Linked DNA regions of Homo sapiens. The protein of the gene in region 6 purifies or fractionates together with the protein of the main gene of each other region. This does not show direct contact. Each region holds a gene or a part of one and is shown on either strand. Other genes may lie near its edges.

Region 1 (3,500 bases), on a different chromosome or scaffold from region 6:
GTCTCCTCATCTGTAAAAAGGACTCTGCCTTTACTGTGACGCTGAGGGAATGTGGGGCACCTGCATGGGTGACTGGCCCAGCACATCCTCAGAAAGGTGGCCACAGGGTGCCACGGCTACTTTCCATGGAATATGGGAGTCAGGGCCACAGGGGTCCCATCTTCTTCCCATTTAGATGGCGCCAGACTCCTCTGACAAGAGCAGGTCATTACTGAGGTGCAGTTTCCTTCTTATCTGGGGCTGCTTTGCAGAGTTGGCTATTATCCAAGATCCCAAATGATAAAAGCAAATGACTGGCAAGCTCAGAAGCAGCCCTGGCTCTGCTGCCTTCATCTACTTCTGTTTCCACAGCCTCAGGGATTGAAAGGTGAATTTAATGCAGGAGAAACTGAAGAGTCTACTTTTTGTCAGAATAATAGTTACTTCACCAGGACCAAATTAATTACTTTTTTGTTGTTATGGATATAGGTGCAATTAGGTAACTATACATATGTAATACTAATGAATCATTAGCATATCATAAATAATTTAGTTGATAAACTGTTTCAACCACCACTCTCCATAGATCATGGAAACCCACAATGTACTGTGAGGCAGTTTGTTAGCCCGCCTGCTAGGAAGTCTGGATTTCAATTATCTACATGTAAAACCCAGGCTTTCCCTTGGAGAAGAGCAAAATCAAAGCCCTTAGGTAATTTTATAAGGCATTTATGAATGTTACAAAAGCATGGGAAATTAATTTGATTCTACACTTAATTACATTCGGCTGTAAAAGAAAAAAAGATTCTCTGGATTATGATTTGACTCACTGATTTTTTTTTTTTTTTTTAAGACAGAGTCTCGCTCTGTTGCCCAGGCTGGAGTGCAATGGCGTGATCTTGGCTCACTGCAACCTCCACCTCCCAGGCTCAAGCGACTCTCGTGCCTCAGCCTCCCACGTAGCTGGGATTACATGCGCATGCCACCACACCTAGCTATTTTTGTATTTTTAGTAGAGATGGGGTTTTGCCATGTTGGGCAGGCTGGTCTTGAAATCCTGGCCTTGGCCAGGTGATCCGCCCGCCTCTGCCTCCCAAAGTGCTGGGATTACAGGCGTGAGCTACCACGCCCAGACTGACTCACTAATTTTTGCTCAGCTCTTGGTCTCTTTCAGGGGAATGTATACTGTTACGTGTTTTCATAAGGTCTACATAATGTTATGCAAGAAATACAACTAATGTGCCCACCATGGGTTTTTTAAAAGCAAATTACATGAATTCTCCCTTTGCCTCATTTGTCTGAGTTTTAGAACAGGCATATGGAACTAAGCACACCCTAGTTAAAGATGGTTAAAAATCCTTAGCTGTTTATAACACCACATTTTCCTCTGTCTCCACAACATACCCCAAAGCATAGCTGCCTCTTTGCATTTGCAAAACCCTCTGTGCTGGACAACAACCTACCCAGCAATGCGCATTGCCAGGCAGAGATCTTACCCTGGGAAACCACACAGATAAATCCTTCCCCCACAGTGGATCCTTCCCACACCCCCTAAAAAGGGAAGATGAGTGTGTGTTTTGAGGAGCCAGAGGAGCACGGCTGTACTCACTGTGAAGTCTGTGGGTGTCATGGTGGGTCAGTCAGATGCAAGCCTGCTCCTGGAAAAGGGACAAAAATCAAAAAGTGGACTGGCTTGTAAACGAATAGTAACAACCAAATGCCAAAAAGATGGAGATTAAATTTTAAATCTGCTTATTCTTCTGAAAAAAATATTCCAAGCAGGAGTTAGAGTCTATATAGTATTCTAGATTTCAGAATCATCTGAGTAGTCCACACAGAAATGAATGAACCTCTCCTTTGAAGTTATCATTCACTTCTTTGACTCTGAGGGTCACCTGATTCTAGCATTTGTTTTCTTTCTACTTAGACAATAATTAGTACATCTCCCATCCACAAATGAGGAATGGCAGGTGGGCTGTTACATTTTTCCCAGCTCATCCTTTCTACATTAGCTCCCTTTCCCTTGATTCAGCTTGTCTGTCAAGTCCTGTTTTGCTGACTGGTTCCCCTTCCCCCTGCTCTATCAGCTAAGGGACTCACCGAAGCTAACAGGACAGTGGTCGCTTTGAGAATGCCCTGGGCTCTGGACTCCCCAGGAAAAGGGCCTTTGAGTAACCAGGTGGCAAGAAGAACATGAGGGCTGGGTGGTGCCCACTGGGGTTGGGGCCCCTCCCTAAAAGACCCGGTGCCCCCAGAACCCACCTTTCTCCTCTTTACCCTGACTTCAGCAGGAAAAGGAAGTCCTAGGTTTGTGTACTGAAGAAAATGAGTTCTAGTTCCCTAATGCACAGGGCCTCGGAACTGACTGAAATAAATCTCGAGTTGTCATTTTCATGTGTTTTGAATTTCTTTAAAGCCCACCCCTACATAACCAAAGAAACAACAGCTTGACTGCCTTCGAGGACGAAGTCTGTGCCTGAGCTGGGGCATTTCCTTTTATACCCTTAGCGAGTACATTTCAAGGAAACCTGTCCAGCATCACACCCCAAGGTTCTCGAAAAAAATAGCCTCTTTCATAAATCCTATAAAGCCAACCTGTTGGCTTCCTTTCCATAACAACATCATGACCCCACCCTGCTTTTCTGAAAGTACAGTGGTTTCCAATGCATAATGTGTGGTAAAACCACTTTGGAAAACTGGCAGTTTCTTAAGACGTTATACATGCACTCACCATGTGATCCAGTCATCCCACTCCTAAGTATTCACCCAAGAAAATTGTAAGTATATGTCCCCATAAAGACTAGTATGTGAGTGTTTATTACAGCTTTACTCTGTGGTAGGCAAAAACTGCTAACAGCCTAAATGTCCATCAAGTAGTAAATGGATAAGTTAACTGTGAAATATCCGTCCAATGGAATAGGGAATGAATGACCGATTCACACAGCAACATGGACAAGTCTCCAAACAATTATGCCAAGTAGCCAGACCAAAGGGAGTTCATACTGTATGATTTCACTTGTATAAAACTCTAAATAATGCAAACTAATCTATACTGACGGAAAGCAGAATCACTGATGTCCTGGCAATAGAGAGAGAGAGAAGGGGAGGTGGCTGGGCATGGTGGCTTACGCCTATAATCCCAGCACTTTGGGAGGCCAAGGTGGGTAGATCACCTGAGGTTGGGAGTTCGAGACCAGTCTGGCCAACATGGTGAAACCCCATTTCTATAAAAATACAAAAAATTAGCCAGGTGTGGTGGTGTGCGCCTGTAGTCTCAGCTACTCAGGAGGCTGAGGCAGGAGGATCACTTGAACCTGGGAGGCAGAGGTTGCAGTGAGCCAAGATTGCACCACTGCACTCCAGCCTGGGTGACAGAGCAAGACTCCATCTCAAACAAAAAAAAAAAGAGAGAGAGAGAGAGGGAAGGGGAGTGTGGGAGGGCAGGAGGGCAGGTGGGTACAAAGGAAACCTCAGTGGGGGATAAATATGTTCACTGTCTGGGTTGTGTGAGAGCTTCGCAA
Region 2 (3,500 bases), on a different chromosome or scaffold from region 6:
CGCCCGAATCCTGCTGCCCGGCCCTGGGCCTGGCCCAGCTGGTGAGTGAGGAGCTGAGACCCCCTCAGGACAGAAGGCTCTAGGCCCATCTGGCCCCTGGCCTTGGCCCTGGCCACTGTGGCGAGACCACCTCATTTCCTGCCTATAGATCAGTAGGGGAAGGAGGAAAGGCCACAGTGGGGGTCTCGGCTCTGGGTGAGGGACTCCTGTGCTCGATACCCCCGTGCACAGAGCCTGTGGCCTCAGGACCCCGGCCGTGGGCAGAGCAGCTCAGGGCTCGGCACCTAGAGGCTCTCCGGAGGCAGCTGCATGTGGAGCTGAAGGTGAAGCAGGGGGCTGAGAACATGACCCACACGTGCGCCAGTGGCACCCCCAAGGTAAGGCCCCACAGTCTGATGGCAGGAGCACCCTGGCCCCTGGTCTGACAGGGAAATGCACCTCAGCCATTGGGCTCATAAGGAGACACCATTCCAGCCTGCAGCCTGATGGGGAAAATACAGCCCCAAACCCCAGCTGGGTGAGGAAGGCATGGCTGTAGTCTCTAGTGTGACAGAGAAGGCCTTGCCCTGGTCTAATGGGATCCTAGCCCAGCCCCAGTCCCAACTCCCAGCATGATGTCCAGAACTGGGCCTCAGTCCTTGTCTGACAAGAAGACTTGGCTGTGGCCCTGATATGATGACGGAGGCAGGACCTTAGCCTTGATCTAATGGGGGAGGCTTAGCTTAGCCCCTGCCCTGATCTGATGGGGGAGGCTTATCCCCAGCCCTGATCTGATGGGAGAGGCTTAGCTTAGCCCCTGCCCTCATCTAATGGGGGAGGCTTAGCTTAGCCCCTGCCCTGATCTGATGGGGGAAGCATCAACCCTGCTCTGATGGGGGAGGCATGACCACAGCCCTGATCTGATGGGGGAGAGTTAGCCCCAGCCCTGATCTGATGGGGGAGAGTTAGCCCCAGCCCTGATCTGATGGGAGAGGCATGACCCCAGCCGTGATATGAAAGAGGAAATTTGACCCCAGCCCTTGTTGGTCAGATGGAAAAGGCTCCCCTGACCCACCAACTAGTCCAACAAGGGAGGCTTGACTTTAGTGTTTGGCCTAGAGGTTTCACTTTAACCCTGTTTTGATGGGGGAGACCCGGCTCCAGTTCCTGGTCTGATGGGGGAAGCTGTGGCCCAGGCCTGGTCTGATGGGCCTGTGCTATGGCTCCATAGGAGAGGAAGCTCCTGGCAGCTGCCCAGCAGATGCTGCGGGACAGCCAGCTGAAGGTGGCCCTGCTGCGGATGAAGATCAGCAGCCTGGAGGCCAGTGGGTCCCCGGAGCCAGGTGAGGCCTTGAGACACAGGGAGGGCGGAGCAGGGAAGAGCAGGGCCTGAGAGCCGCCGTCCTTCCCACAGGGCCTGAGCTGCTGGCGGAGGAGCTACAGCATCGACTGCACGTTGAGGCAGCTGTGGCTGAGGGCGCCAAGAACGTGGTGAAACTGCTTAGTAGCCGGAGAACACAGGACCGCAAGGCACTGGCTGAGGTCAGGCCCCAGCCCTGGCCCTCTCCTAAGGCTGGCTTGTTCCCATACCACCCTCAGCAGGGGTGTGAAGGGAGGGTGGCCGTGTAAAAGCAGGACTTCTCTGTTGAGACTTCATGCGGAAGGTGGCTCCGGGTGACCTGGGCTGCTGCCCCCTGCCATATACCCCACGAACCTGGCTCTACGTTGTCCCCTCTGCAGGCCCAGGCCCAGCTACAGGAGTCCTCTCAGAAACTGGACCTCCTGCGCCTGGCCTTGGAGCAGCTGCTGGAGCAACTGCCTCCTGCCCACCCTTTGCGCAGCAGAGTGACCCGAGAGTTGCGGGCTGCGGTGCCTGGATACCCCCAGCCTTCAGGGACACCTGTGAAGCCCACCGCCCTAACAGGTAGTCAGAAGTTCCTCCCCCTTCAAAGCTCTCCTTCTTTTTGGGGGGAGGCCGGAAGCACAAACAACTCTGATGAAGAGTTCAAGAGTTCCAGTCCTGCCCCAGCACCCACTAGCAGCGTGACCTTGGCAAACTGACATTCCTTCTTCAAACCTCAGTTTATCCATCTGTAAAATGTGGATGATATAGCACCTACCTCATAGGGTTGCTGTGTTGCACGTGATGTGCTAAGCACAGTGCCTAGCACAGTCAGCACTCGGACAGCGTAGCTTGTATTTACATAAATAACCAGAATAATGCTTAAAGCACTGGTGTTAGGAAGCTCGCAGCCCTGGAAAGCTTGATACCCAGCACTGGGCAGCTTGGACTGTTAGAAAGTTTTCTAGGCTGGGCGTGGTGGCTCACGCTGGTAATTCCAGCACTTTGGGAGGCTGAGGTGGGTGGATCATGAGGTCAGGAGTTCCAAGACCAGCCTGGCCAAGATGGTGAAACCCTGTCTCTACTACAAATACAAAAATTAGCCGGGCGTGGTGGCGGGTGCCTGTAATCCTGGTTGCTCAGGAAGCTGAGGCAGAGAATTGATTGAACCCCGGAGGCGGAGGTTGCAGTGAGCCGAGATCACGCCACTGCACTCCACCCTGGGCGACGGGGCAAGACGCCGTCGCAAAAAAAAAAAAAAAAAAGGTTTTCTTGGGCCAGGCATGGTGGCTCATGCCTGTAATCCCAGCACTTTGGAAGACTGAGGTGGGCGGATCACCTGAGGTCAGGAGTTCAAGACCAGCCTGGCCAACATGGTGAAATCCTGTCTCTACTAAAAATACAAAAAAGTAGCTGGATGTGGTGGCACATGCCTGTAGTCCCAGCCACTCGGGAGGCTAAGGCAGGAGAATTGCTTGAACCCAGGAGGTGAGGTTGCAGTGAGCTGAGATTGCGCCGCTGCACTTCAGCCTAGGTAACAGGGCAAGACTCCATCTCAAAAAATAATAATAATAATTTCCTTGGAAAAAAAATAATAAAATTAAACTAAAATTGCTGGGTGCAGTGGCTCACACCTATAATCCTGGCACTTTGAGAGGCTGAGGTGGGAAGATTGCTTGAGCTCAGGAGTTTTTTTGAGACCCAGTCTCAAAAAAAAAAGAAAAAAAGAAAGTTTTCTTGGCTGGGCACAGTGGCTCAAGCCTGTAATTCCAGCACTTTGGGAGGCTGAGGTGGACGAATCATTTGAGCCCAGGATTTCTAGACGAGCCTGGGCAACATAGTGAAACCTCATCTTTAGAAACAAAAAAAATTAGCCGGGCGTGGTGGCGCATGCCTGTAATCCCATCTACTGGGGAGGCTGAGGCAAGAGAATTGCTTGAACCTGGGAGGCAGAGGTTGCAGTAAGCCAAGATTGCACTGTTGCACTCCAGCGTGGGTGACACAGCAAAACTCTTTCAAGAAAAAAAAAAAAAGAAAGAGTTTTCTGGTCTGGCTCAGTGGCTCATGTTTATAATCCTAGCAGTTTAGGAGGGTGAGGCATGTGGATCACTTGAGTCCAGGAGTTTGAAACCAGCCTGGGCAACATGACAAAGCTCCATCTCTACAAAAAATACAAAAA
Region 3 (3,500 bases), on a different chromosome or scaffold from region 6:
CCTCTGTGCCTGTGTACGTCATCAGCCTTTATACATTCTAGTCCCTCAGCCACTGCTCATCCTTCTTGATCCACCTCCTCTACTGGTTTTTTGGGGGAGCCTTCCTCTCCCTAGGAAGAGTTAGATATTCCTTCCTTGGTGTATGTAATGAATGTCCATGGTATAACTGGCCCTACTTAAGCATTCTGACACTGGATGACAGTTTGTTTCTCTTTCCGTCTGCCCCTTTCATTAGATGCTTACTTCTGGAGAGTGAAGCCTTGATTTTTTTTTATTTTTTGACTCCCTACCTACATCCCATCCCACCATCGGCCGTGTACACCTCCATGGCCCAAACCTAGTGCTGACACTAACCACGAACTTTGCTTTCTAGCAGATCGAAAAAGCTTCTGCACAATCCACAGCACAGGCTATTTGAAAAGCTGGCCACCCACAAAGATGGGGCTGGATGAAGACAACGAACCAGACAATGAGGGGTGTAACCTCAGCTGCCTCGTCGCAATTGGACGACTGCATTCTCATGTAGTTCCACAACCAGTGAACGGGGAAATCAGGGTGAAATCTATGGAATATGTTTCTCGGCACGCGATAGATGGAAAGTTTGTTTTTGTAGACCAGAGGTAAGAGTCTACATACTACCCTTGAGCAATGATGGTAGAGGATTTTCAACCCTGATCTAAAAAGCAGAGAAGACTGGGCCATCAGCTGGCTTTTCTAAGAATGAAGAAAGAAAGAAAAAGCTGGGTGCAGTGGCTCACACCTCAAATCCCAGCACTTTTTGAGGCCAAGGTGGGTGGATCACTTGAGCCCAGGAGTTTGAGACTAGCCTGGGCAACGTGGCAAAACCCTGTCTCAACTAAAAATACAAAAATTAGCCAGGCATGGTGACACATACCTGTAGTCCCATCTACTCTGGAGGCTGAAGCAGGAGGATCAGCTGAGCCTCGGGAGGTCAAGGCTGCAGTGAGCTGTGATTGCACCACTGCACTTCCGCCTGGGCAACAGAGTGAGACCCTGTTTCAAAAAAAAAGAGACAAATGATGAGAGTCTCTGTTAAAAAATGAGATTCAATAGGATATCATCATAAATACAGAGATTTTTCTGTCATTCTTTGGCATATAGAGACAATTAAGTGGGGTGCCTTGATGTCCATGGCTAAAAGAAAAACAGTAGGGATAGCATGCTGTCTGAATCTATGGAATGTTCCAGAACCATTATTGTGATTGAAATTCTTTTGAATCTAGGACTTGGAAGCAATTATTTAGTCCTGAGCTGTCCAATAAAATACTCGTTGGCCATGGTAGCCTCCCATGTGGCTAACGGCACAGACATAGAACATTTCCATCATCACAGAAAGTCTTGTTGGACAGCGTTGATCTAATCCAACCTCCTTATTTTATGGATGAAGAACAGAGGCCAGCCTGGGGACTGGTCTCCTGTAGGATTCACAATTAATTGGTAATAGACCTGGACCAAGGACCCAGGTGTCCCAAATTTACTGCTGCCTACTGCTTTCCCTCAGAATATGCACAGGCTAATAATTTTTCTGGCTACTAGAGACAGCCACAACATGCTGGAAAAAGAGACAGCCTCAGCTGTCTTGTGGCCTCAGCTGCTGCAGCTTCTGGCATTTGGTTGTCCTGATAAAAAGGAGGCAGCAAAAACTAGAAGCCTTGCACTGAGGTTTAGATTTATACCACATTTTAATCTAATTAATGTGGTTCCTTTTTTAAAGACAGATCTCAGTCTGTCACCCAGGCTAGATCTAGTGCAGTGGCGAGATCTTGGCTTACTGTAGCCTTGACCTCCCGGGCTCAAGCAGTCCTCCCACCTCAGCCTCCCAGGTAGCTGTGACCATAGGCATGTGCCACCATACCCAGCTCATTGTTCTGTGTTTTTGGTAAAGACAGGGTTTCACCATGTTGCCCAAGCTAATCTTGAATTCCTGAGCTCAGACAATCTGCCCAACTCGGCCTCCCAAAGTGCTGGGATGACAGGCATGAACCACCATGCCCGACTGGTTGCAATTTTTAAAGCCCCCTCAGATTTGATTTCTTGTGATAATAGTCCCTTTACAAAGGCTTTGCTCTGTTTCCCTCTATTTTTATAGCCTTGATTAAATTCAGATGCCTGAAAAAAAGAGAGAAAGATCCACACAGTGAGCCCTCTGAAAATCCATCCAGCTCTTTTGCCTGCAGCTTTGACCTTGCTCTCATAGGCTGTAGCAGGGTTTATCCATTGCAAAGTTGCAATTAATCATCTGAATGGCTTTTTCTTCTTTAAATATTCCTTTATTCCCTTTTAGGGCAACAGCTATTTTGGCATATTTACCACAAGAACTTCTAGGCACATCGTGTTATGAATATTTTCACCAAGATGACATAGGACATCTTGCAGAATGTCATAGGCAAGGTAAGCTAGGATGTATGAAAGATCTTAAGTTGAAAGTGTCCCCTTGCTTCTAGACTAGTCAACATGACCTTCCAGGGAAATCTGTCCACTGAGGATGTAGAGTCAGCCAGCCTAGGACTCTTCAGGTCAGAACATCTGTGTGAAGAGGAAGCTGATACCTGCAGGCACTGTTTATCCCCCTTGTAGTTGCCCTGTGCTGACTGCATGGCAGTTTCTGAAAGACATCTCTTGTTCAGAGGGTTTTCCCAGACCCTGTAAAGATTTAGTATGGCCCAGACTGATCTGATTCTCTTTTCCATTCAAGCCTGCACTACCTCCTGTGTTTTCTGTCTTGACTAATGCTGTGGCTTCATGTGCAGGCTCCTGAGAGAGACCAACATTGACCCCTTCTTTCACTGTGTCTCCACCAGATCCTGTTCATTCACCTCAGACATGCATTTCCAAAAGTCTACTTTTTACCACCTCTGCCATCACCCTGGTTCAGGCCCTCGTGCCTACTTAGAGACCTGTGATAGACTTCTCAGGGTTTCTCTGATCCCTCTCACCCCCAGTTCATCTTCCATAGTTATCCTATTTATCCCCAGATAGATTGAGCCTGGTAACATCAGCCTGCTTAAAAACCTCCTGCTTTAGACTCAAGCCCAAATGCTTTTGACAGGCAATCAAATGTGAGACCTTCCACCTTCTGGCCCCAGCCCACCTCCTCAGTTTCAGTCCCCATCCCTGCCTGCAGAGGCCTGTGCTCCAGGCACACTGACCTCACTGGCCTCTCCCCAACCAGACCCTGCTGCTCCTCAGGCACTGCTGGGTTCTTCCCTCCCTCCTTCTCTTGGCAAACTCGTGTTCATCCCTCAAGGCTCTGATCTCTTCTCCCTGTATAGCCTTCCCTCACTACTCTTCTTGAGGGCAGGAGTCATAGCCTGTCTCCTCTTGTATCTCCAGTGCCTGGCACATGAGAAGGGCTCATTACATGTTACATGAAAGAATGAGGTTGAATAGGTGAGTAGCCTCTGTTGATTTGGATGTTCTTAGAAATGAGATAAGTTCTATATTGCCCTTGGGCTTTGTGATTGAGATAAAGCATGACA
Region 4 (3,500 bases), on a different chromosome or scaffold from region 6:
TGTAAAACACTCCACCTAACAACAAAACACACATTCTTTTCAACTGCACATGAAGAACACTTACAATGATAGAATATATTCTAGGCCATAAAATAAATCCGAATAAATTTAAAATTATCTCATTACAATGGAATTAAATTAAAAATAACAATGATCTCTGGAAAATCCTCAAATATTTGAAAACTATATAACACACTTATAAATAAACTATAGACCCAGTAAGACATCAGGAAAGAAATTATAAAGTACTCTGAATGGAATGAAAATGGAAACATATCAAAAACTGGAAACGGCCAGGAGTGGAGGCTCACATCTGTATCCCAGCACTCCAGGAGGCCAAGGAAAGAGGATTGCTTGAACTGAGTTCAAGACCAACATGGGCAACACAGTGACATCCTTGTCTTCAGAAAAAATTGTAATAAACTCTGGCCAGGTGTGGTGGCTTACACCTGTAATCCTAGCACTTTGGGAGGCTGAGGCAAGTGGATTGCCTGAGCTCAGGAGTTGACGACCAGCCTGGGCAACATAGTGAAACCCTATCTCTACAAAAAATACAAAAATTAGCCAGGCATGATGGCACGCGCCTGTAATCCCAGCACTTAATAGACTCTGGTGCGAGGATCTCTTGAGCCTGAGACGTCGACACTGTGGTGACCCCGTGATTGGGCCACTGCACTAAAGCCTAGGCAACGGAGTGAGACCCAGTCTCAAAAAAATAAAAATAAAAATAAAAAATTAGCCAGGCATGGTGGCACATGCCTGCAGTCCCAGCTACTCAGGAGGCTGAGGTGGGAGGATCACTTGAGCCTGAGAGGTCAAGGCTGCAATGGGCCATGATCACGATACTGTACTGCCTGAGCAGTAGTGAGACCTTGTCTCAAAAAACAAATAAATAAATTATAAACAATTAAAGGGAAGTTTATAGCATGCTTACATTAGAAAAGAAAAAAGGTCACAAATCAATGACCTCAGCTTCTATCTTAAGAAACCAGAAAAAGAAAACAAATTAAACCCAAAAGTAAGCTGAGGAAAGGAAATAAAGACCAGGGCGGAAATAAGAAAACCACAGGCAGTCAATTAAACTAAAAGTTAACTTTTTAAGAACCTCAATAAAATTAATAAACTTCTAGCCAGACTAATCAGGGAAAAGGGGAGCAGAGACAAATTACTAGTATTCGGAATGATACTAAATCTCTACAGGTTATACAGATATTAGACTCATTACACTTTCTACAGATATTAAAAGAACAATAATAGAGTATTATAAGCAACTTTTTGCAATAAATGCAACAAGTTAAATGAAATGGGTAAGTTCCTTCGAAAACTTATCAGGCATGTGAAGAGACGGAACAATACAACCATATGACCAATAACCAACAGAAAAACAAACAAGATAAACAGACCAATAGATGATGCCGATATTGGAAAAGACAAGCATTTAAATAACTATAATTAGTATGTTCAAGAGAACTGGAGTCTATTACAAGTCTATAAAACAACATCAAAGGAATACTCTAGAACTCAAAACCACAATGTAAAATTAAGAACACAAAAGATTATTTTGACAAAAAGAGAAGATAGTTTTGGCATACTGGAAGGCAGGTCGATAGAAAATATCCAAACAGAGAAAAAAATTTTTTTCAACATGTGGAACATGATAATTAAGTTTAATATATGTGTAATTAGGATCCAAAAAGAAAAAAGGGGCAGAATATATGAAAAGGTGGTAACAGAACTTTCCAAAACTAAAAGGCATCCAGCTAGATTCAAAAAACTCTATAAACATAAAGCAACAAAGAAAACCACATCTGAACACATCAAAGTGCTTTAAAAGTAACACAGAGAGTCTTAAAATTAGCCAAGGAAAAATAAAAGACACATTATCCTCAGCAAGAATATAGCTAATACATTGCCTTCAATAAGACTGGTAGCTGACTTCAACAAAAAGAAAGGAAGACAGAAAGCAACCAAACATTCTTAATGTGTTGAAAGAAAATAACTACCAACTTAGAACTTAATAGCCAGTGAAAACACACTTCAGGCCAGCCACAGTGGCTCATGCCTGTAATCCTAGCACTTTGGGAGGCCAAGGTGGGCAGATCACTTGAGGCCATGAGTTTGGAGACCTGCGTGGCCAACATGGCAAAATCCTATCTCTACTAAAAATACAAAAAATTTAGCTGGGTATGGTAGCACATGCCTGTAATCCCAGCTACTCAGGAGGCTGTGGCATGAGAATCATTTGAACCCAGGAGGCAGAAGCTGCAGTGAGCTCAGATCACGCCACTGCACTCCAGCCTAAGCAACAGAACGAGACTGTCTCAAAAAAACAACAACAACAACAACAAAAAAAACACCAAAAACCACTTCAAAAAAGGTGAAACTGCCGTGCATGGTGGCTCACACCTATACCCAGCACTTTGGGAGGCCAAGGTGGGGGGATCTCTTAAGCCCAGGAGTTCAAGAACAGCCGGGGCAACATGACAAGACCCCGCCTATACAAAAAATTTAAAAATTAGCTGGGCATGGTGGCATGTGCCTGTGGTTCCAGCTACTGAGGAGGCTGAGGTGAAGGATTGCCTGAGCCCAAAAGGTTGAGGCTACAGTGAGCCATGTTCACACCACTACACTCCAGCCTGGGTGCCAGAGTGAGACCTTGTCTCAAAAAAAAAAAAAAAAAAAAAAAAAAAAGGTGAAATTGAGATATTTTCAGAGAAACAAAAATAGAAAAAATCACTGATACTAGGTAGGCCAGTATCAAAATGCATGATATAGGGAAGTGACAGTATTATTATCCTAAAAATTGAAAACAACTTCAATGTCCAACAGAAGATTGATAAGTAAATTATTACACAGAGATGAGAATGTTACATACCTACTAAAAATAATCACATAGCAGAAAAATACTGACATGAAAATATGTTGATGATTCACTGTTAACTGAACAGCTTGCACTGCAGTGGACTACATTAGGAGCCCATAACATCATATAAGTATACATATACTTATGTAATGGCTCAACAAAATGCAGGAAGCAGATAGATAATCAAGAAGATTAACAACAGCACTTTCGGTGGTATGATCTCCAATGATATTAATTTTTTTTTTTTTTTTTTGAGACTGAGTCTTGATCTGTCGCACAGGCTGGAGTGCAATGGCGTGATCTCTGCTCACTGCAACCTCTGCCTCCTGGGTTCAAGCAATTCTCCTGCCTTAGCCTCCCAAGTAGCTGGGATTACAGGCACCCGCCACCATGCCCGGCTAATTTTTGTACTTTTAGTAGAGACAGGGTTTCACCATGTTGGCCAGGCTGGTCTCAAACTCCTGACCTCAAGTGATCCACCCACCTCAGCCTCCGAAAGTGCTGGGATTACAGGTGTGAGCCACTGTGCCCTGCCTAAAATGTAATCTATGCTTTCTTACTGTTTCCCACATTAGGGATGTGCTATTTTTTAATTGGGGGCAAGAGAGGAGGGGAGAGGAGGGGAGGGGAGGGGAGG
Region 5 (3,500 bases), on a different chromosome or scaffold from region 6:
TTATTTCTGTTAGTCAACACCAATGCGATAATTTTACACTTGCATTACTAATTGTTGTCTTTAAAAAAGACTTTGTTGGCATTTCAGTTTCTTGAATGACCCTTAAGATCTTTCAGTTATCAAGCAAAATGATCATGTGCTTATAAAAGGAGACTACTTCACTGGGCTGTTTGGTATGGAAATTGTCTTTCACAGAAATTCCTGTACATCCATCCCCTGCATGCTACAAATGCCTCCTTGTTGACATGCTAAGTTACTATTGCCTTAAAAAATAGTGTTTTCATGTACAAATTAAAAGCCATAACACTTTTAGTAGTCTATCTAATATAGCACTTCATAAACTGTATAAAACTCTGGTAAGTCACAAGTGTTTATGTTAAGAACAGTATTTTTCATTGTTTTCCTGAAAAATACTGTTCTTAACATAAACACTTGTGACTTACCTTTCTTCCCTCTTTCTTTTCCAATTTTCCTTAATGACATAGTACAGATGAAACATTATGTTTGTAAATAAACAAAAGTATTTCAACATCTTTTAACTTTATACAGAACAGAAGAAAGCTAAGACTGCAGAAAAGAGTGAAGAAAAGACTAAAAAGGAAGTGAAAGGTGGAAAACAGGAGAAAGTGAAGCAAACAGCTGCAAAAGTAAAAGAAGTACAGAAAACACCATCAAAACCCAAAGAAAAGGAGGACAAAGAGAAAGCAGCTGTGTCAAAGCATGAACAGAAAGGTAAACATTCAGAGCAGGAGGCTGCCGGAGGTTCTAAGAGAATATTGGGCAAGAAGCACATGCAGTGAAATTAAAAGTTGAAAAAGACCAAAATCAGACTTCAAATGGGGGTAAAAGACATTAAAGTAAATATATCAGAAAAGAAATACAGTAAATTGGGAATTAATATTTATTTATAAAAATACTAAAATGTGTTCACAGATCTAAAGGGGCATTTTGAAGTATTTTTAAAAGGGGTTTGGAGGTAGCATCCGAAATCATATAAAGATTGGGGATAAATGTTGAATTTTTGAGATATGGAATGTCTATTAAGAGGTGGAATAAAGATTGTATGTGTCATACTCTTTGGAGGAAAGTGGTCCCCCAAAATGACAGCAATTCCTAAGGAGTTTGTGAAGGGGTACATGTTGGAATCATATAGAGTAAATATCATAAAAACTATCCATACATTACTGTTGCATTGGCAAGAGCACATCATTTAGAATATACATCCAATTATTAAATTTATTTAATAGGCAAGATGTTATAGAGAAGACAGTTCTCAAGTTTCTTTTTCAGTTTCCATTGACTAAATTTCTAACTTTAGAAAGCTCTGAATGTGACATATTTCGCCATTCTTCAGCAAGAGTGATGTCAAACTTACATCCCCACTTTGCAAAAATATATCACTTCAATGGAGGTGGCATATAAACCTGAATTTTTATTTTATGGAAGGTTGCTATGTGAATATACAGAGCTGAAGGTTTAGGAGGGCAACTAAGGGTCTTATCGTACCACATCTCTGGCCCTTATTGAATGTTTCTTTTCCTAAGTCCATTCCTGACTCCAGTTTGCTGTATAATCCTGAGACTCCTTTACAGAATACGGGGATCTAACATGTAGAGACTATTCCTGTAATTGGTGTTTCTTGGAGACATTGCAAAACCAAATTTTTCTTTACTTTGTAGCACTTTTGACTAATGTTATCTAAGGACTGTATCAAAGAATTGGTTTCTATTAGATTTTAGTTTAAGAAATCTTACAATTTTATTACAGAGCAGGCTATTTGGAGGATGAAACTGAAATTAATTTTTCCTCATAAGGCACAAGAAATGAAATTTGCAATGCACTCGTACTGTATTTTCATCTTTTTTCTCTTGAATTTGCATTTGTAAACTTTGATTCACATGTAGTATTTGTCAACTCTGATTTATATGACAAAAGATACATATTTTAAAAATATATATTTTAAAAAGGAAAGATTTTTTCTTTTTTTAGTGATCTACAAACCTTTAAATTTAGATAATTTTAATTTATTATTTTAAGATATAAGTCATATTAAAACTTAGGAGCTCTAAAACTTTTTCCAATTTTCAAGGTGATTATATCACCATGAAAAAAATTTAAAAGTTAATTATTACTTCCATCAAAATTATGTCATTAATGAAATATTTTGGTAGACAAAAAGGATGAAGTAAGTAAAGAGAAAATACGTTGAATATAATATTTTACTGTGGTAAAAAAACAGCAGAAATAATCTTTGGATTCACTGGTATGATTACTTAGATCCTGAAATCCTTTACACTTTAGATTGCTGTTCAAAAAGAAAAATAATCACATGAAATCAGTGAAAACCTACAAAGTACATTCTAATTTTTAACCATAAATACAGAGTGTAAAAATTGATGCCAGTTATATTTGGAAATGTCAAAATACTTATCTAACAACTAGGAATGTGAATGTATTTTTTGATGTTAATTTTTCATATCTTTGGGGATTTGGGAGCCACATTTTATTGATAAAAACTCATCACCGGAACACTTTAAAATAATGTTTATTTTCCAGGCCACAAATATTGTATTTCATTTCTATCAGTAATCAGATTTATTAAAGACAGCATTATATTACCATATCCCTTTTCAGTCTACTATTTTTATTTCTACACAAAGAGTTATTTATCTATTAAAAGGACATTCAAATATCATTTAGAGTTTAAAACAAAAGCACAAATGTGATTTTATCAGCTAAACAATTGCAATTGCTAAAGCAAGTCTCAGTATTGAGAACAATTGCCATCAATTATATAAATGTATCATTAGGTAAGTATTCAAAACTTAACCTCTAATGGCAGATCAGACATATAAATATGTCATTTTATTTTTCATTTTTTGTTACTAAGCAAAGATTTAATTAAGAGCATTTTTAAATTAAAGAAAACTAATTACATTATGATTTTAGCTAAGCAAGATAAAGATATAGTTTTTTTTAATTTCTGAGGCTTTGGTTTTGAAAATTTTATATGATGACTTAGTTGAGTTAGCTCAACTAAGCTAACTGTTGAGTTAGCTTTTTGGGCAAGAGAATACTCATTCACATAGTTAAGTTAGACCTAATATGTTTGAGGCATTCTTTTCATATAGATTTCTAAATACTTCTTTTTAAAGAAATAAGGCTCATAGGTCCTTTACTCACTTGGAAACAGATTTTCACATGGGACACATATTTATTAGTAATTATTTAATTACATAGTATACATATGAATATATTCAATGTAGTTACTCTCAATATTGTATATGGAAATAATACATCTCTTTTTCTGCTTAAAGCATTAGGGATAAGATGCATATGTATATACACACCTACCATAAACACACACACACACACAGACACACACACACACCCATCAAATAATCTAGTTTTTATGAACCCATCTAAATCTGTTTGTAGAGTAGGAAGAGTTGGCATAGTCAGACATTGCTCCCTAGTTTTCTGATGACCTCTAGGAGGTC
Region 6 (3,500 bases):
TGCCTGAGTCCAGGAGTTGGAGACCAGCCCGGGCAATACAGTGAGAACTCGTCTCTACAAAAAATTTTTAAATAATATAAAAAATAAAATATTAAAATTCAAAAAATAAATTAAGTATATATCCAAATGTGGGATGATATCTAAGGCAGTATTCTGAAGGAAATTTATAGCCTTGGTTACATTAAAGATGAAAGGCAGGAAGGAAGAAAACTAATGAGTTGTATATCCATCTTAAAAACTATAAAAACAGCAGAACAAACCCAAAGAAAGCAAAAATTAACAAAAGAGGAAATAAACATACTAGAGAGGATCAGCATAACCAAAAGTGGTTCCCTGGGACAGATATAAACAACATTAGGCCATCAAATTTTAAAATGTACAAGATACTGAAATCTATCAATTGCACAATACTTATCGTGCAGTTTATTGCATGTGAATTATACTTCATTAAAGCTGTTTTAAAAAGCAGGCATTTAGTGCAGTGCCAGAAACAGGGTAAGGATTCAATATATGCCAGATACTGATATTCTTCACACAGTATGCATGATCAAGCATTGGTTTTTGCAGGGTTGGTATGAATAACTAATGTTTGGTTGCGTTGAAAGTTTCAGCTGTGACCCCTACATTATTTTCCTGAAATTAAATAAGTATAACCCCTCAAAATGTGTATGACATTGACAAATTCTTGGGGAAAAAAACGTAACTTACCAAAAACAGATTCAAGAAGAAATGAAAAGCCAACTGAATCAATAGTTAAAACCTTTCAGTAAGAATACCCCAGGTCCTGATGGTTTTAGCACAGAGTTCTAGCAAACGTTCAGGAAATAAATAATCTCAGTCTTACACCAATTAATTAACACAACAGAAAAAGAAGGAATACTTTCCAATTCATTTGATAAGGCTAATATAACTGTAATACTAAAACCTAACAATATCGCAGGCCGATTTCGCTTATAAAATAAATGCAAAAGGTTAGGTGTGGTGGCTCATGCCTGTAATCCTAGCACTTGGGAGGCCAACACAGGAGGATCCCTTCAGCTCAGGAGTTCAAGACTAGCCTGGCAATATAGTGAGACCTTGTCTCTACAAAAAATGAACAAAATTACCTACGCATGGCGGTGTGTGCCTGCAGTCTCAGTTACTATTGAGGCTGAGGTGGGAGGATTGCTTGAGCCTGGGAGATTGAGGCTGCAGTGAGCTGAGATCCCACCACTGCACTCCAACCTGGGCGACAGAGTGAGATCCTGTCTCAAAATAATAAAAATAATAATAAATAAAAATTAAATTAACTAAATAAATGCAAAAATCCTAAAGGGAATATTAGCAAACTGAAAGTTAAGTTTGGTTTTATATTTAAAAGTATCAACTGGAGCTGGAGCTAGGTGCAGTGGTGTGCACCTGCATCCCAGTGAGTTGGGAGGAGGAAGTGGGAGGATTACTTGAGCCAGGAGTTTGGGGCTGCAGTGCACTATGATCATACATGTGAATAGCCGCTACATTCCAGCCTGGGTAACACAGCAAGATCCCATCTCTATTAAAAATAAATAAATAAATTGATTTATTAAAAATAAATAAATTGATTTGTATACTATATTAATATTAAAGAAGAAAAACTATATTATCTCCAAGGGTAGAGGAAAAAACATTGCTAAAATTCAACATGATAAAACCTCAAACTAGACATTTATGGGAACTTCCTTAAACAAATAAAAAAACTATAAAAAACCTAATGTAAAATCATACTTAGTGAAACAAAGTATTCCCTCTAAGACAAAGAACAAGATACAAAACTGGTCGTTGAGTCCTAGCCAATGAAGAAAAGGATTTTTTAAAAGATAAAAGGGCTAAGAAGAAACAAACTGTCATTATACACAGATAATTGTGTTGTTGAAAATCTAAATTTATGTCCAGAAAAACATGAAGATTAAGAGCCATCTAGATTGCTATGTATGTACACACAAAAAAACAACAAAAAATACACCAGCAATAACAAAGCAAAACATTTTAAGGAATACCACATATAATTGTTTCAAAAAATATAAACTACTTAGGAATAAATCTAACATAAAGTATATAAGATCTTTATGGAGAAAACAATAAAATTTTAATGAAAGACACTACAAAATATGTTGAAATTATATCCCATTGGTGGATAAGAAAACTCAGTATAGCAAAAGTGCTGACTCTCACCAAACTGTCTATATAGAAGCAATTAATTCCCAATAAAAAGACCAACAGAGTTTCTGTGAAACTTGATGAGCAAATCCTAAAATGCATACAGGAGTGGAAAGGTCCATGAACAGCCAAAACATTTCTGAAGAAAGACCACAAGGTGGAAGAAGCTACCCTATCAGTTATCAAGACACATAAAACTACATTAATTAAAACAGGGTGGCACTGGCACAAGGATACACAAATAAACCAATAAAACAGAATTAAGTGGCCAGAAACACACTAATGAATACTTGATATATAAGACAGGTGGTACTGCAAATTGGTAGGGACAAGAGACTCTGTTCAATAAATGATGCTAGAATAGCTGATTTCCCTATGGCAAAAAAAAAAAAAAGAAAAAGGGAATTGAATGCCTATCGCACACTATAGAAGACAATACAGAAAAATATCTTTATGATCTCAGTGTAAGGAAAGATTTTCCAAGACACAAAAAACACAAGCCACATGCCATCTACATTAAGAACTTCTATTCATTGAGATGCCATAGACAGAGGGGAGGGGAAAAACCAAGGTAAAACTGGAGGAGGAAAAGAATTTAGAATTTAGAATATATAAAGAATGTCTATGAATCAAGAAGAAAAAAGACAAATAATCTAACAGAAAAAAGTTGATAAAAAAGACTTGACACTTCCAGAAAATGAAAGTTCAATAGTCAAATATCTGAAAAGATCTTCAACCACACTAGTAATGAAGGAAATAATATCAACGACAAATCTGATCAGCAAAAAGTAAAAAGTCAAATTGAAAATAAAAAATGTTGGTGAAAATGTGGAGCAAAAGAAGTTCTTAACCATAGCTGGTTAGAGTATAAATTGGCACAACCTCTGCAGAAAGCCACTTTGGCATTACTAGTGTAGCTGAACATTGTTAAACCCTACAGCTCAGCAATCCCATTTCTACACATTTCTAGGCATCTCAGGACATTGGTTCTCAACTGGGATGATTTTGCCCTGCAAGGGACATTTGGCAATTTGTGGAGACATTGTTGGTTGTCACAATTGGGGGTGCTACTACCACCTAATGGGCTAAGAGGCCAGAGATGCTGCTAAACATCCTACAAAGAACAGGAGGGCTTCCCACACTATTGAATTAATTTGGCCCAAAACACCAAGTCTCAAGGTTGAGAGGTCCTACCCAAGAGAAACAATTTTTATAACTCCTGTGTATTATAACCAGTTCTAATTCATTTCCCTGACAACGAGGTTCCCTTTAGGTCCATTCTTTCTAATTAAATGCAAGCTGCTTTCTTTAAAAGTACAAAAATA
Region 7 (3,500 bases), on a different chromosome or scaffold from region 6:
TGAGATCATGCCACTGCACTCTAGCCTGGGTGAGAGAGTAAGACCCTGTCTCAAAAAAATAAATAAATAAATAAAAGTTTATCTAAATGTGTATTATCCTGTCTACCTCCAGAAAGGACTTATGAACAGAAATGTTCAATTTGAAAAGTCAAATAATGCTGTTCTACATAACACCACATTCAAATGATTACAACAGCTAAAACCTATGTCTATATTCTTGGTACAGCTCCTAGTAAATTCTACATATACTTCAAATCTTAAACCAAAGGACCCTTCCCTGATTCCATAAACTAGGATAGGTTCCCAATTACATTTCTCCTTTGTATTACTGTGCAGTTACTAGTTTGGCAAAGTCCATTTGCCTGGCTGATATGTAAGCTCCATGAACACAGCTGTATGTCCCTTTATCTGCTCAATCATCCTTGTTCACTAAGACAGTAAGGAGGTCAACAAGTATTTCTTGAATAAAGAAACCTAATAGAAGAAACTTCTTGTATTTTTTGTGACAGGGTCTCACTCTGTTGCCCAGGCCAGACTGCACTGGTCAGATCATGGCTCATTGCAACCTCTGCCTCCAGACTCAAGCAATCCTCCTACCTCAGCCTCCTGGGTAGCTGGGACTACAGTCATGCACCACCACACCCTGTTAATTTTTGTATTTTTAGTAGAGACAGGGTTTTGCCACGTTACCCAGGCTGGTCTCAAACTCCTGGCCTCAAACAATCCACCCGCCTCAGCCTCCCAAAGTGCTGGCTGGGATTACAGGCATGAGCCACTGCGCCCGGCCAGAAAACCAACAGAAGAAACTTCTACTTGTACATTTTGAATGAAAAATTTATTTTATCAAGAAAAAAAGCCTGTAAAATTACAGATTGTTTGTTTAATGTAGGAACACACTTTTATTTTTATAAGAAATGTAGAGATAATTTGTTGAATCAGATGTAAAAACATCAAATCAACAACTTTTTTTAAAAAACCTTAACGTCACAGGAAAGAGAACCTAAATAAAATTACGTTACGGGCCAAAGGGAAATTTTATAAATTCAGTTTCTGCTTTTCTGGGGAATTAATATTTTAGAGGGATATGTCTGCTTAAGGCAAAGCAATGTATCCTAGTCTCTTGATCTAATTATCAATATTCAGAAAATGGTCCACTTCTCAGCCAACAGTCTGTGGATTCCAGGGGGTCAAGACACTTTCATGGGGTCAATTAAGTCAGAACTACTTTCACAAGAATGCTCATCTATTATTTGCCTTTTTTCACTCTCATTCTCTCACAAGCGTACAGTGTTGTTTTGCAGAGGTCATGTGATACAGCAAGACTGAATGCAGAAAAAGACACGAGAATTCAGCAGGCTTCTATTAAGAGAGATCTTATAAAGATCTGGAAAAATGTAAAATAATCACTCCTTTCCCTGGTATTTTTTAGCAAATATAATTGGTTTTCATTAAAAATGTTATGTTACGATAATTGCATGAGGTAATGGATACTAACTACCCTTATTTGATCATTAGACCAACATATACATCTATCAAAACATCAAACTGTATCCCATAAATACATACAATTACAATGTGTCCATTTGTAATTTTAAAAATCTTTTTTTTTTTGAGATACAGTCTGTCACCCAGGCTTGGAGTAATCTCAGCTCACTGCAACCTCCGCTTCCCGGGTTCAAGTGATTCTTGTGCCTCAGCCTCCCAAGTAGCTGGGATTACAGATGTGCACCACCACGTCTGGCTAATTTTTAAATTTTTAGTACTGACATGGTTTTGCCATGTTGCCCAGGCTGGTCTCAAACTCCTGACCTCATGTGATCTGCCTGCCTCAGTCTCCCAAAGTGCTGGGATTACAGGCATGCACCACCATACCTGGCCTTAATTAAAAATTTTTAAAATATTATTTAACATGAATCGATTTAGTATTATAGTTTTAAAACAAATAATTATTAAATAAATTTTTAAGTGTTTTAATTTCCAATGTAGTAACTAGCGGTAGATATAACCCACATAAACAAAAGATTTAGAATCTTCAATTTTTAAGAGTAAAGAGATCCTCAAACCAGAAAGTAGGAGAAATTCCTGGTCTAGAATAAGAATTTCTTTGGAACAACCAATTTGATTTTTTCAAAGAATACATTTAAAATAAAAGACAGATGGCACCCATAGATGTAAAGGAACTTTATTTACATAGTAATCAATTGCAATAAATGAACTTTACTTGGATCCTGATTCAAACAAATGGCTTCTAAAAAAGTGAAATGATCACGGAAATAAATACTGGCTCAATATTTGATATCTTAAGAAATTAAGTTTTTTTAAGTGTTAAGAAAGACTATAACTATTGAAGCTGCAAGATGACTACATGGGAGTCACCATGTCAGTTTGACAACATTAATCCTTTTAAATATAAGAACTTAGAAGGTGCTAGCATTGTCTACTTACTTTTTCAATTCTAACTCTGAAAGAGAAACAAGTAACAGTATCAGACAATATAAAAGCCACTGAACTGTCAATTTAAAACAGACTCTCTTCATTTTTAGGATTTATATTGCTATATATTTTTAAAGCAAATGAAAAATGTTCTTTTGGCCGGGTGTGGTGGCTCGCGCTTGTAATCCCAGCACTTTGGGAGGCCAAGGTGGGCGGATCACGAGGTCAGGAGATCGAGACCATCCTGACTAACACGGTAAAACCCCCATCTCTACTAAAAATACAAAAAAATTAGCCAGGCATGGTGGCGGGCGCCTATAGTCCCAGCTACTTGGGAGGCTGAGACAGGAGAATGGCATGAACCCGGGAAGGTGGAGGTTGCAGTGAACCGAGATCGCGCCACTGCACTCCAGCCTGGGCAACAAAGCGAGACTCTGTCTCAAAAAAAATAAAAAAGAAAAATGTTCTTTCACTTCTCCATTTTTCTAAAACCAAATTAATAAGAACAGCCAAGAATATACAGTACTTATTTTAGCACATCTTACAAGTTTAAGCCGTATTAGTGAATACGAATGTTAATTCAACGAATATTTAAAAACTTTCATCAAACGCAGTATGCTGGGGAGCTAAAAATTGAAATAGGTAAACAACCTGAAGGAGCCCACTATCTACTTCACAACCAATATGTAACCCCCCAACCTATAATACAATATAAAATGGTAATTAGTTCCCTGAAAGATATCTAACATAGCTTATTGAAAAAGTGATGATTTCAACAAATGATTACAAATAGGAGGAAAATCTAAACCTTAAATAATGTATTATTTTAATTGTTGCCAACCCTAGAAAAAATAAGCCCAGCATGGTAGTGTGCACCTGTAGTCCCAGCTACTCGGGAGGCTGAGGCAGGAAGATCACCTGAGCCCAAGAGTTCAAGAGCAGCCTCGGCAACATAGTGAGACACTGTCTCATAAAAAAAAAAAAATTTAGGAAACAAAGTTAACAGGCATTCAAAGGCTGACCATTTCCAGGTTTGGCTCTTTGCATCCAAAGCTATGTATCACCTC

The links.
Region 1: the proteins of GOLGA5 (region 6) and CCR9 purify together in Homo sapiens (co-immunoprecipitation; one large-scale study listed by IntAct). This does not show direct contact.
Region 2: the proteins of GOLGA5 (region 6) and PKN3 purify together in Homo sapiens (affinity purification with mass spectrometry, with the first as the bait; one large-scale study listed by BioGRID). This does not show direct contact.
Region 3: the proteins of GOLGA5 (region 6) and BMAL1 purify together in Homo sapiens (affinity purification with mass spectrometry, with the first as the bait; one large-scale study listed by BioGRID). This does not show direct contact.
Region 4: the proteins of GOLGA5 (region 6) and CLOCK purify together in Homo sapiens (affinity purification with mass spectrometry, with the first as the bait; one large-scale study listed by BioGRID). This does not show direct contact.
Region 5: the proteins of GOLGA5 (region 6) and TRDN purify together in Homo sapiens (co-immunoprecipitation; one large-scale study listed by IntAct). This does not show direct contact.
Region 7: the proteins of GOLGA5 (region 6) and RPRD1A purify together in Homo sapiens (affinity purification with mass spectrometry, with the first as the bait; one large-scale study listed by BioGRID). This does not show direct contact.

Annotation. Positions count from the first base shown.
Region 1 is NC_000003.12:45,893,043-45,896,542, reverse strand, and holds part of CCR9 (C-C chemokine receptor type 9), read right to left. Parts: intron 2,327-3,500; exon of another isoform or gene 2,242-2,326; intron 1,638-2,241; 5' UTR 1,610-1,637; coding exon 1,589-1,609; intron 1-1,588.
Region 2 is NC_000009.12:128,705,503-128,709,002, forward strand, and holds part of PKN3 (serine/threonine-protein kinase N3), read left to right. Parts: coding exon 1-41; intron 42-231; coding exon 232-377; intron 378-1,210; coding exon 1,211-1,322; intron 1,323-1,393; coding exon 1,394-1,521; intron 1,522-1,719; coding exon 1,720-1,903; intron 1,904-3,500.
Region 3 is NC_000011.10:13,371,790-13,375,289, forward strand, and holds part of BMAL1 (basic helix-loop-helix ARNT-like protein 1), read left to right. Parts: intron 1-373; coding exon 374-620; intron 621-2,305; coding exon 2,306-2,412; intron 2,413-3,500. UniProt on the Homo sapiens protein: Transcriptional activator which forms a core component of the circadian clock.
Region 4 is NC_000004.12:55,536,910-55,540,409, forward strand, and holds part of CLOCK (circadian locomoter output cycles protein kaput), read right to left. Parts: intron 1-3,500. UniProt on the Homo sapiens protein: Transcriptional activator which forms a core component of the circadian clock.
Region 5 is NC_000006.12:123,500,951-123,504,450, reverse strand, and holds part of TRDN (triadin), read left to right. Parts: intron 1-549; coding exon 550-732; coding exon of another isoform or gene 733-800; exon of another isoform or gene 801-2,623; intron 2,624-3,500. UniProt on the Homo sapiens protein: Contributes to the regulation of lumenal Ca2+ release via the sarcoplasmic reticulum calcium release channels RYR1 and RYR2, a key step in triggering skeletal and heart muscle contraction.
Region 6 is NC_000014.9:92,800,805-92,804,304, reverse strand, and holds part of GOLGA5 (golgin subfamily A member 5), read right to left. Parts: intron 1-3,500. UniProt on the Homo sapiens protein: Involved in maintaining Golgi structure. Stimulates the formation of Golgi stacks and ribbons. Involved in intra-Golgi retrograde transport.
Region 7 is NC_000018.10:36,057,560-36,061,059, forward strand, and holds part of RPRD1A (regulation of nuclear pre-mRNA domain-containing protein 1A), read right to left. Parts: intron 1-3,500. UniProt on the Homo sapiens protein: Interacts with phosphorylated C-terminal heptapeptide repeat domain (CTD) of the largest RNA polymerase II subunit POLR2A, and participates in dephosphorylation of the CTD by RPAP2.